2 linked regions of the Homo sapiens genome follow. The protein of the gene in region 1 interacts with the protein of each later gene in a pairwise test. Each region holds a gene or a part of one and is shown on either strand. Other genes may lie near its edges. The genes, in order: FERMT3 and EXOSC10.

Evidence for each region.
Region 2: the proteins of FERMT3 (region 1) and EXOSC10 interact in a two-hybrid assay, tested with the Homo sapiens proteins (one large-scale study listed by BioGRID and IntAct).

What each region holds. Positions count from the first base shown.
Region 1 is NC_000011.10:64,209,720-64,213,529, forward strand, and holds part of FERMT3 (fermitin family homolog 3 short isoform), read left to right. Parts: intron 1-891; coding exon 892-1,125; intron 1,126-1,332; coding exon 1,333-1,452; intron 1,453-1,555; coding exon 1,556-1,724; intron 1,725-1,925; coding exon 1,926-2,028; intron 2,029-3,810. UniProt on the Homo sapiens protein: Plays a central role in cell adhesion in hematopoietic cells. Acts by activating the integrin beta-1-3 (ITGB1, ITGB2 and ITGB3). Required for integrin-mediated platelet adhesion and leukocyte adhesion to endothelial cells.
Region 2 is NC_000001.11:11,072,370-11,076,179, reverse strand, and holds part of EXOSC10 (exosome complex component 10), read left to right. Parts: intron 1-1,853; coding exon 1,854-1,949; intron 1,950-2,171; coding exon 2,172-2,246; intron 2,247-3,810. UniProt on the Homo sapiens protein: Catalytic component of the RNA exosome complex which has 3'->5' exoribonuclease activity and participates in a multitude of cellular RNA processing and degradation events.

The sequences.
Region 1 (3,810 bases):
GGCTGAGGTGGGTGGGATGCAGTGGGAATCAGAAAACTCACCGGGAGGACCTGGGAGGAACTCAGGAAACAGGGCTTTGCAAACTCTCAAGGGCTGTGTGCCCAGAGCAGCTTTCCGGCAGCCTTTTTCCTATGCTCTCTCCCACCTGTTCATGCTCCTGGAGGGAGGAGGCGGGGAGACCTGTGCCTTCCATTACTGTAACTCCAGTTCCCAGCTGGCTGACAAGGGACAGACGCACATCTCTAATTCAATGCTCACTCATGGATCGTCATGTGCGTGCACAAGTTTGCTGCAAACCCTGCAGCTACCACATGGGAGGCCTTGTTCCGTGTCCCAGTTTGTAAGATCGTTATTGTATCTTACAGGGAAACTGAGGCCCAGTGAGGTTAAGTGGCTTGTCCAAGGTCACACAGCTAATAGCTAAAAATATTGAGTGCTCACTGCTCCAGGCCAGGCACAGGTCCAGGCCCTGAGGACATACAACGGTGAGACAGACGTAGTCTCTGCCTCCAGGAGCTCCCCAGAATGCAAGACAGAGGCTGTTAAACCGTGGATTATGGGAGGACAGAGGGGGCGTCATGTGGAGGGAGCCCAGTGGGCTGGAATGCAAGAGATGGGGCGCTAAGATTGGGGCACTCAGATGCTGGGTTGGAGAGCTCCCCTGGGAAGCGATATAGAAGCCAAGCCTAGAAGGCCAAATCAGGGGCTGCCTGCAGAGAGCCCTGCTGCTGTTACCATGGGGTAGACCCCAGGCCCGCCCAGGCTGCCCCACTCTTGGCTTAGGCAGGGCAGGGGAGTGGTCGCCCCAGGCTTCTGAATCCTGGGGTTGTGCTGGGTGTTGGGGGCACCAGGGAGGAAGGTTGGACCCAGATGTGCCCCCGTGCCCCACAGATCGCAAGCAGGACTGGTCAGACCATGCTATTTGGTGGGAACAGAAGAGGCAGTGGCTGCTGCAGACCCACTGGACACTGGACAAGTACGGGATCCTGGCCGACGCACGCCTCTTCTTTGGGCCCCAGCACCGGCCCGTCATCCTTCGGTTGCCCAACCGCCGCGCACTGCGCCTCCGTGCCAGCTTCTCCCAGCCCCTCTTCCAGGCTGTGGCTGCCATCTGCCGCCTCCTCAGTAAGTTGCCCGGCTGATTCCCCTGGCCCACGAGGGTGATGCAAAGAGGCAGGTTCCCCCGTTTCCAGGCCCAGCTCTGTTGACGCTGTCCTTGCTGTCTGGGTTGCCACCCTGCCTGCAGGGCTGTGACCCGCCCCAAGCACCCATGGGTGAGGTGGGGAGGCTGCAGCAGGACCTAGTCCCCGCTGAGACCCTAGCTCCCCTCAGGCATCCGGCACCCCGAGGAGCTGTCCCTGCTCCGGGCTCCTGAGAAGAAGGAGAAGAAGAAGAAAGAGAAGGAGCCAGAGGAAGAGCTCTATGACTTGAGCAAGGTTGTCTTGGCTGGGGGTGAGTGCAAGTGGGGGTGGGCCTGGGGGGTTGGGGGCAGGGGCCGGCCCGTGAGTCCCAGCCCTGGGGGACAGGCCTGGTTGACTCCCAACCTGCACTCCAGGCGTGGCACCTGCACTGTTCCGGGGGATGCCAGCTCACTTCTCGGACAGCGCCCAGACTGAGGCCTGCTACCACATGCTGAGCCGGCCCCAGCCGCCACCCGACCCCCTCCTGCTCCAGCGTCTGCCACGGCCCAGCTCCCTGTCAGACAAGACCCAGCTCCACAGCAGGTGCACCCAGGAGCCACGCCCCCTGTGTCAGGGCTCCCCCACCCAGGATCCACCCCCTGTCCCGTGTCTGTGCCCACCCCAGATCCACACTTCGTTTCCAGGCCTTTTCTCTGTGTGTGCTTGTCCCCCCAGCCCAGCCCCCCTCCCCACCCCACGGCCGTACCTGGCGCAGCCCTGACTGCTGCTTCTGCCGCGGCCCAGGTGGCTGGACTCGTCGCGGTGTCTCATGCAGCAGGGCATCAAGGCCGGGGACGCACTCTGGCTGCGCTTCAAGTACTACAGCTTCTTCGATTTGGATCCCAAGGTGGGTCGGGGCAGGGAGAAAGCGGGCCTCAGGTCCATGAGATGTGGAGACCTAGGGCCTGGGGTATGGGCTCTGGGATGTTAGTGACTTGTAGTGGCCTGTCCGTCTGCCCGTTTGTCCATCCACACCTTTGTTTACTGACCCCACAAACACCCACTGAAACTCATCTACTCACCTCAGCATCAGGCCAGGTCCTGGGCCCCGGGCAGATGCTGAAGCGGATGAAGACCAGTAAGTCTCAGTGCCTGTTTCCCAGGGAGCTGTCAGGGAGGAAGCTAAGACCCACAGATCCTCATAGACAGTGTGTGTGTGGGTGCCCCTGAGAAGTCTGGGGCTCAGGTGGGAGAGGCCCAAGCCTGGGAGCTCTGGGAAGGCTTCCTGGAGGGGGCACCATTAGGGACTGCAGGACCTGGGGGTGGGTGAGGAAGGAAGCTTTGCAGGGTGGCCCCTCTGTGCCCTGTTCACTCTTCCTCCCTTCCTCCATTGGCAACCAACATGCTCCAGGCAAAATGCTCCATGCAATGTGCTTCGCGCACATCTCAAAAACTTCCCAGAAGTCCACAGGTTGCTCTTTCTACCTGTAGGCCCCACCTCTCTGCCCCCTTTCTCTGCAAAACATCGTAGTTGTCTGAACGCTTGCTCCGCAGAATCCCACTTCTTGCTTCCAAGCTTTCTCTGGGTGCTGTTCGACTCCCTCTCACTCCTTGGCCATGGCTATTCTATATATTTTGACACCATCCACACGTGAGAAGTGCACCTGCTGAGGTGGCCACGTCTCCAGGCTATCTGTTCCCTGGCCATGTCCCACCCGCTTCTTACTTGACCACTTACTTGCAGCATAGACACCACCCCGACCACTCCTCCAGAATATCTTCCTCCTGAAGCCTCCTGTACACTTGCTTGGGGGGTGGCCTCTCCCCAAGCCACTCTGCCAGGCTCTGTGATGTTCCCTCCTCCTCTCCATGGCCTCTCGGTGTTGGTGAGCCCCAGGCTCTGCCCCAGGCTCTGCTCTGGGCCTCTGCTCTCTCCTCTCCTTCTCTCAGTCATCTCCAGTCTTGTGGATTTCAATACCATCTCCACACTCTCTCCCAGCTGATCATCTCCAGCTCAGATGTCTCTCTCCTAAGCTTTATTTATTTATATATTTATTTATTTTTATTTTTTGAGACACAGTCTTGCTCTGTTGTCCAGACTGGAGGGCAGTAGTGTTATCCCGGCTAACTGCAGCCTGGACCTCCCAGGGTCATGTGATCCTTAAGCCTCAGCTCCCCAAGTAGCTGGGACGATAGGCGTGTACTATACCTGGCTAATTTTTTTTTTTTTTTTGACATGGAGTCTTGCTCTGTTGCCCAAGCTAGAGTGCAGTGGTGCAATCTCGGCTCACTGCAACCTCTTCCTCCTGGGTTCAAGCAATTCTCCTGGGATTACAGGTGTGGGCCTGGCTAATTTTTGTATTTTTTTAGTAGAGATGGAGTTTCACCATATTGGTCAGGCTGGTCTCGAACTCCTGACCTCAGGTGATCCACCTGCCTCAGCCTCCCAAAGTGCTGGGGTTATAGGAGTGTATTTTTTTAGTAGAGATGGAGTTTCACCATATTGGTCAGGCTGGTCTCGAACTCCTGACCTCAGGTGATCCACCCGCCTCAGCCTCCCAAATTGCTGGGGTAATAGGAGTGTATTTTTTTAGTAGAGATGGAGTTTCACCATATTGGTCAGGCTGGTCTCGAACTCCTGACCTCAGGTGATCCACCCGCCTCAGCCTCCCAAAGTGCTGGGGTTATA
Region 2 (3,810 bases), on another chromosome or scaffold:
TGGTTTGGTTTTTTGAGATGGAGTTTCGCTCTTGTTGCACAGGCTGGAGTGCAGTGGCATCATCTCGGCTCACTGCAACCTCCACCTCCCAGGTTCAAGCGATTCTCCTGCCTCAGCTTCCCTAGTAGCTGGGATTGCAGGCGCCCGCCACCATACTTAGCTAATATTTTATATTTTTAATAGAGATGGGGCCACTATGTTGGCCAGGCTGGTCTCGAATGCCTGACCTCAGGCGATCCACCCACCTAAGCCTCCCAAAGTGCTGGGATTACAGGCATGAGCCACCACACCCGGCATTTTTTTTTTTTTTTTTTTTTTTTTTTTTTGTGACAGGATCTCATCCTGTCACCCAGGTGGGAGTGCAGTGGCACCATCCTGGCTCACTGCAACCTCTGCCTCCTGGGCTCAAGCAATCCCTCTGCCCCAGCCTTCTCTCGAGTAGCTGGGACTACAGGTGTATGCCACCATGCCCAGCCAATTTTTGTATGTTTTGTAGAGGTGGGGTTTCACCATGTCGCCCAGGCTTCACTTTGGTTTTTAACTTAATTACATAAATCTAGATTGGGCCTTGCTTTAGCAATTAATGAGAAAATACTAGGCGCTTTAGCTGACCTCAGAGCTAATTTGAGTCATGAAGATGATTTAGCAGCTAAGCGTGTTAGCATGAGCTCTGGGCTGCTTTGATACGGAAGTGCTGTTTGGTGTAAAGGAGGCTGTGGTCTCCCTGCACTCTTGTGTTGCAAGGGCGCATAATTACAGATGAAGCAAAAGGATAGCACATATTTATGAACCCAGTTGGAAGCAGCATTTTGTTGCATAATTTCAATGATTCCCTATAAAGATATGTAATACTAAATTTCAGGCCTGGCGTGGTGGCTCACACCTGTAATCCCAGCACTTTTGGAGGGCAAGGCGGGCATATCACCTGAGGTCAGGAGTTTGAGACCAGCCTGGCCAACATGGTGAAACCCTGTCTTTAATTAGCCGGGCATTGTGGCGCACGCTTGTAATCCCAGCTACTCGTGAGGCTGAGGCAGGAGAATCACTTGAATCCAGGAGGCGGAGGTTGCAGTGAGCAGAGATGGCACCACTGCACTCCAACCTGGGCAACAGAGCAAGACTCCACTCAAAAAAATAATACATACATACATAAAATAAATTTCAGGCATCAATTAAGACCTCATGTTCTAGAGCCAGACCATGGTGGGTTTAGATCCTTGGTCTGCTTGTATTCACTGCAAGCCTCTGAAAGACTGTCACAACCTCTGTAGGCCTCAGTTTCCTCCTCTGTAAGATGGTGAGAGTAATACCACCTCATAGGCTATGAGGACATGCTGAGAATTCACTGATCCAGCACATTGATATTGAAATGCTACTGTGTGCTGTTGCAGACACAACACCTTATACATAAGAGAGTGTATGAAAAATTAGCCTTAGCCATTGGTATTAATATCACTGTTACTGGCCGGGTGCGTGCGGTGGCTCACACCTGTAATCCCAGCACTTTGGGAAGCCAAGGCGGGTGGACCACTTGAGGTCAGGAGTTCAAGACCAGCCTGGCCAATATGGTGAAACCTGGTCTCTGCTAAAAATACAAAAATTAGCTGGGCATGGTGGCACGTGCCTGTAATCCCAGCTACTCAGGAGGCTGAGGCAGGAGAATCGCTTGAACACAGGAGGTGGAGGTTGCAGTGAGCAGAGATCACACCACTGTACTCCAGCCTGGGCAAAAGAGCGAGACTCTGTCTCCAGAAAAAAAAAAAAAATCACTGTTAACTGTTGCTCTCTTGCTTGCATCTTGATGTCACAGATGATCATGGTCATTAGTGATCGTTTTTTGTCTGTCCCTGCAGGAACCTAGTGCTGAAGACAGTAAAAAGGGTCCATTGACAGTTGCACAGAAAAAAGCCCAGAACATCATGGAGTCCTTTGAAAATCCATTTAGGATGGTGAGTAGTAGTTTTGTCAGGGCTGACAGGATATGCAGAGATGCCTACAGCTGTACATGCTTTTACCTGGGAAGGAAGCCTCTGAAGCCAGTGTGTCGGCTGCCCTGGTGTCCTGGCAAAGACGCTGACAAGGCACCAGCAACCCCCCATCTGAGCGCTTCTGCCCCGTGGCTCTAGATTCCGTTCCCGGCAGCGTTTCACACAGCCATTTCCTTCCTCCAGTTTCTGCCCTCACTGGGACACCGTGCTCCCGTCTCTCAGGCAGCGAAGTTCGATCCATCAACCAAAATCTATGAAGTAAGTGGACTTGTCACCTGTTCTAAAAGAGACTTTTTTTTTTTTTTTTTTTTTTTGAGATGGAGTCTCGCTTTGTCACCCAGGCTGGAGTGCAGAGGCACAATCTTGACTCACTGCAACCTCCACCTCCCAGGTTCAAGCAGTTCTGCCTCAGCCTCCCAAGTAGCTGGGATTACAGGCACCTGCTGTCATGCCCGGCTAATTTTTGTAGAGATGGGGTTTCACCATGTTGACCAGGCTGGTCTCGAACTCCTGACCTCAGGTGATCCACCCGCCTTGGCCTCCCAAAGTGCTGGGACTACAGACGTGAGCTACTGCGCCTGGCCCTAAAAGAGACTTTCTAAGAAAAGGGGATTTCTTAATTATTCATACCAGGTTTCTGTTTTAGACAAGCCTATCTCATCTGTGAATCCCGTGAAAATGAATGCAAAAGCCCTTTATTTTCTAGCATTGTTTCTAGGGAAAGGGTCCAGAACTTCAGTGAGATTCTTAAAAGCACTTGGGCTGGGCATGGTGGCTCACGCCTGTAATCCCAGCACTTTGAGAGGCCGAGGCGGGCGGATCATGAGGTCAGGAGATCGAAACCATCCTGGCTAACATGGTGAAACCCCGTCTCTACTAAAAATACAAAAAATTAGCCAGGCGTCGTGGCAGGCGCCTGTAGTCCCAGCTACTCGGGGGGCTGAGGCAGGAGAATCGCTTGAACCTGGGGGGCGGAGCTTGCAGTGAGCCGAGGTTGCGCCACTGCGCTCCAACCTGCGCGACAGAGCGAACTCTAGCCAAAAAAGAAAAAGAAAAGCACTTGGAAACTTTGTAAGAAACAAATCTTCATTTGCGGTTTTTAAATTGAGGTTTAATCTATATGTAGTAAAGTACACAAATATTAAATATACAGCTTGATGCATTTTTATAGATGTCTGTTACTTTAAGGCTCTTAAAGGTGACAGCTTTAATTTTAAAACACTCTATCTTACTTATCTGGCTTGTTTTTACCAGCATTATGAGTAAGAATGAGAGCACACCTCCCCTAGACCCTCTTGAGATGTTCCCCAGAGCCAGAACGTGAACTGTTGTTCGCAGCCTCCTTCCTCCCTTTAGGAAGCGTCTGCTCTGATGACATGGGCGACTGGCTTCCTCTGTGTGGCAGCAGAGCTCTTTTGTTAGGCAAAACCGAGAGGTCCCCCAGCCCCGTTCCTGTCCCTGAGTTAGCTTGCTATTTTTGGAAATGGGGAATCAGGTGGGGCTTCTGCCTTCTCTCCTCTTTTCCCCCCACGGGTTATGTCACACTGAACAACTGCACGTCCTGTGTGTTATGCCCAGTGTCACCTCCATGTGTTGTAACGCCATAGGTCCGTGGGGTGTCATAAAGAAACACAGCAGACTTGCGGAAGCCCAGCCTTGAGTCTGCTTCTGTCATTTACTGACCATGTCCCTTGGACAAGTTATTTACTCTCCCGGAGTCTGTTTGCTCATCTCTAAAGAGAGGGTGATGACAGTACCTTTTTCCCAGGGTTACAGAGGGATTGAATGAGATGATGGATGGCCCAGTGCCTGGAGGACAGTA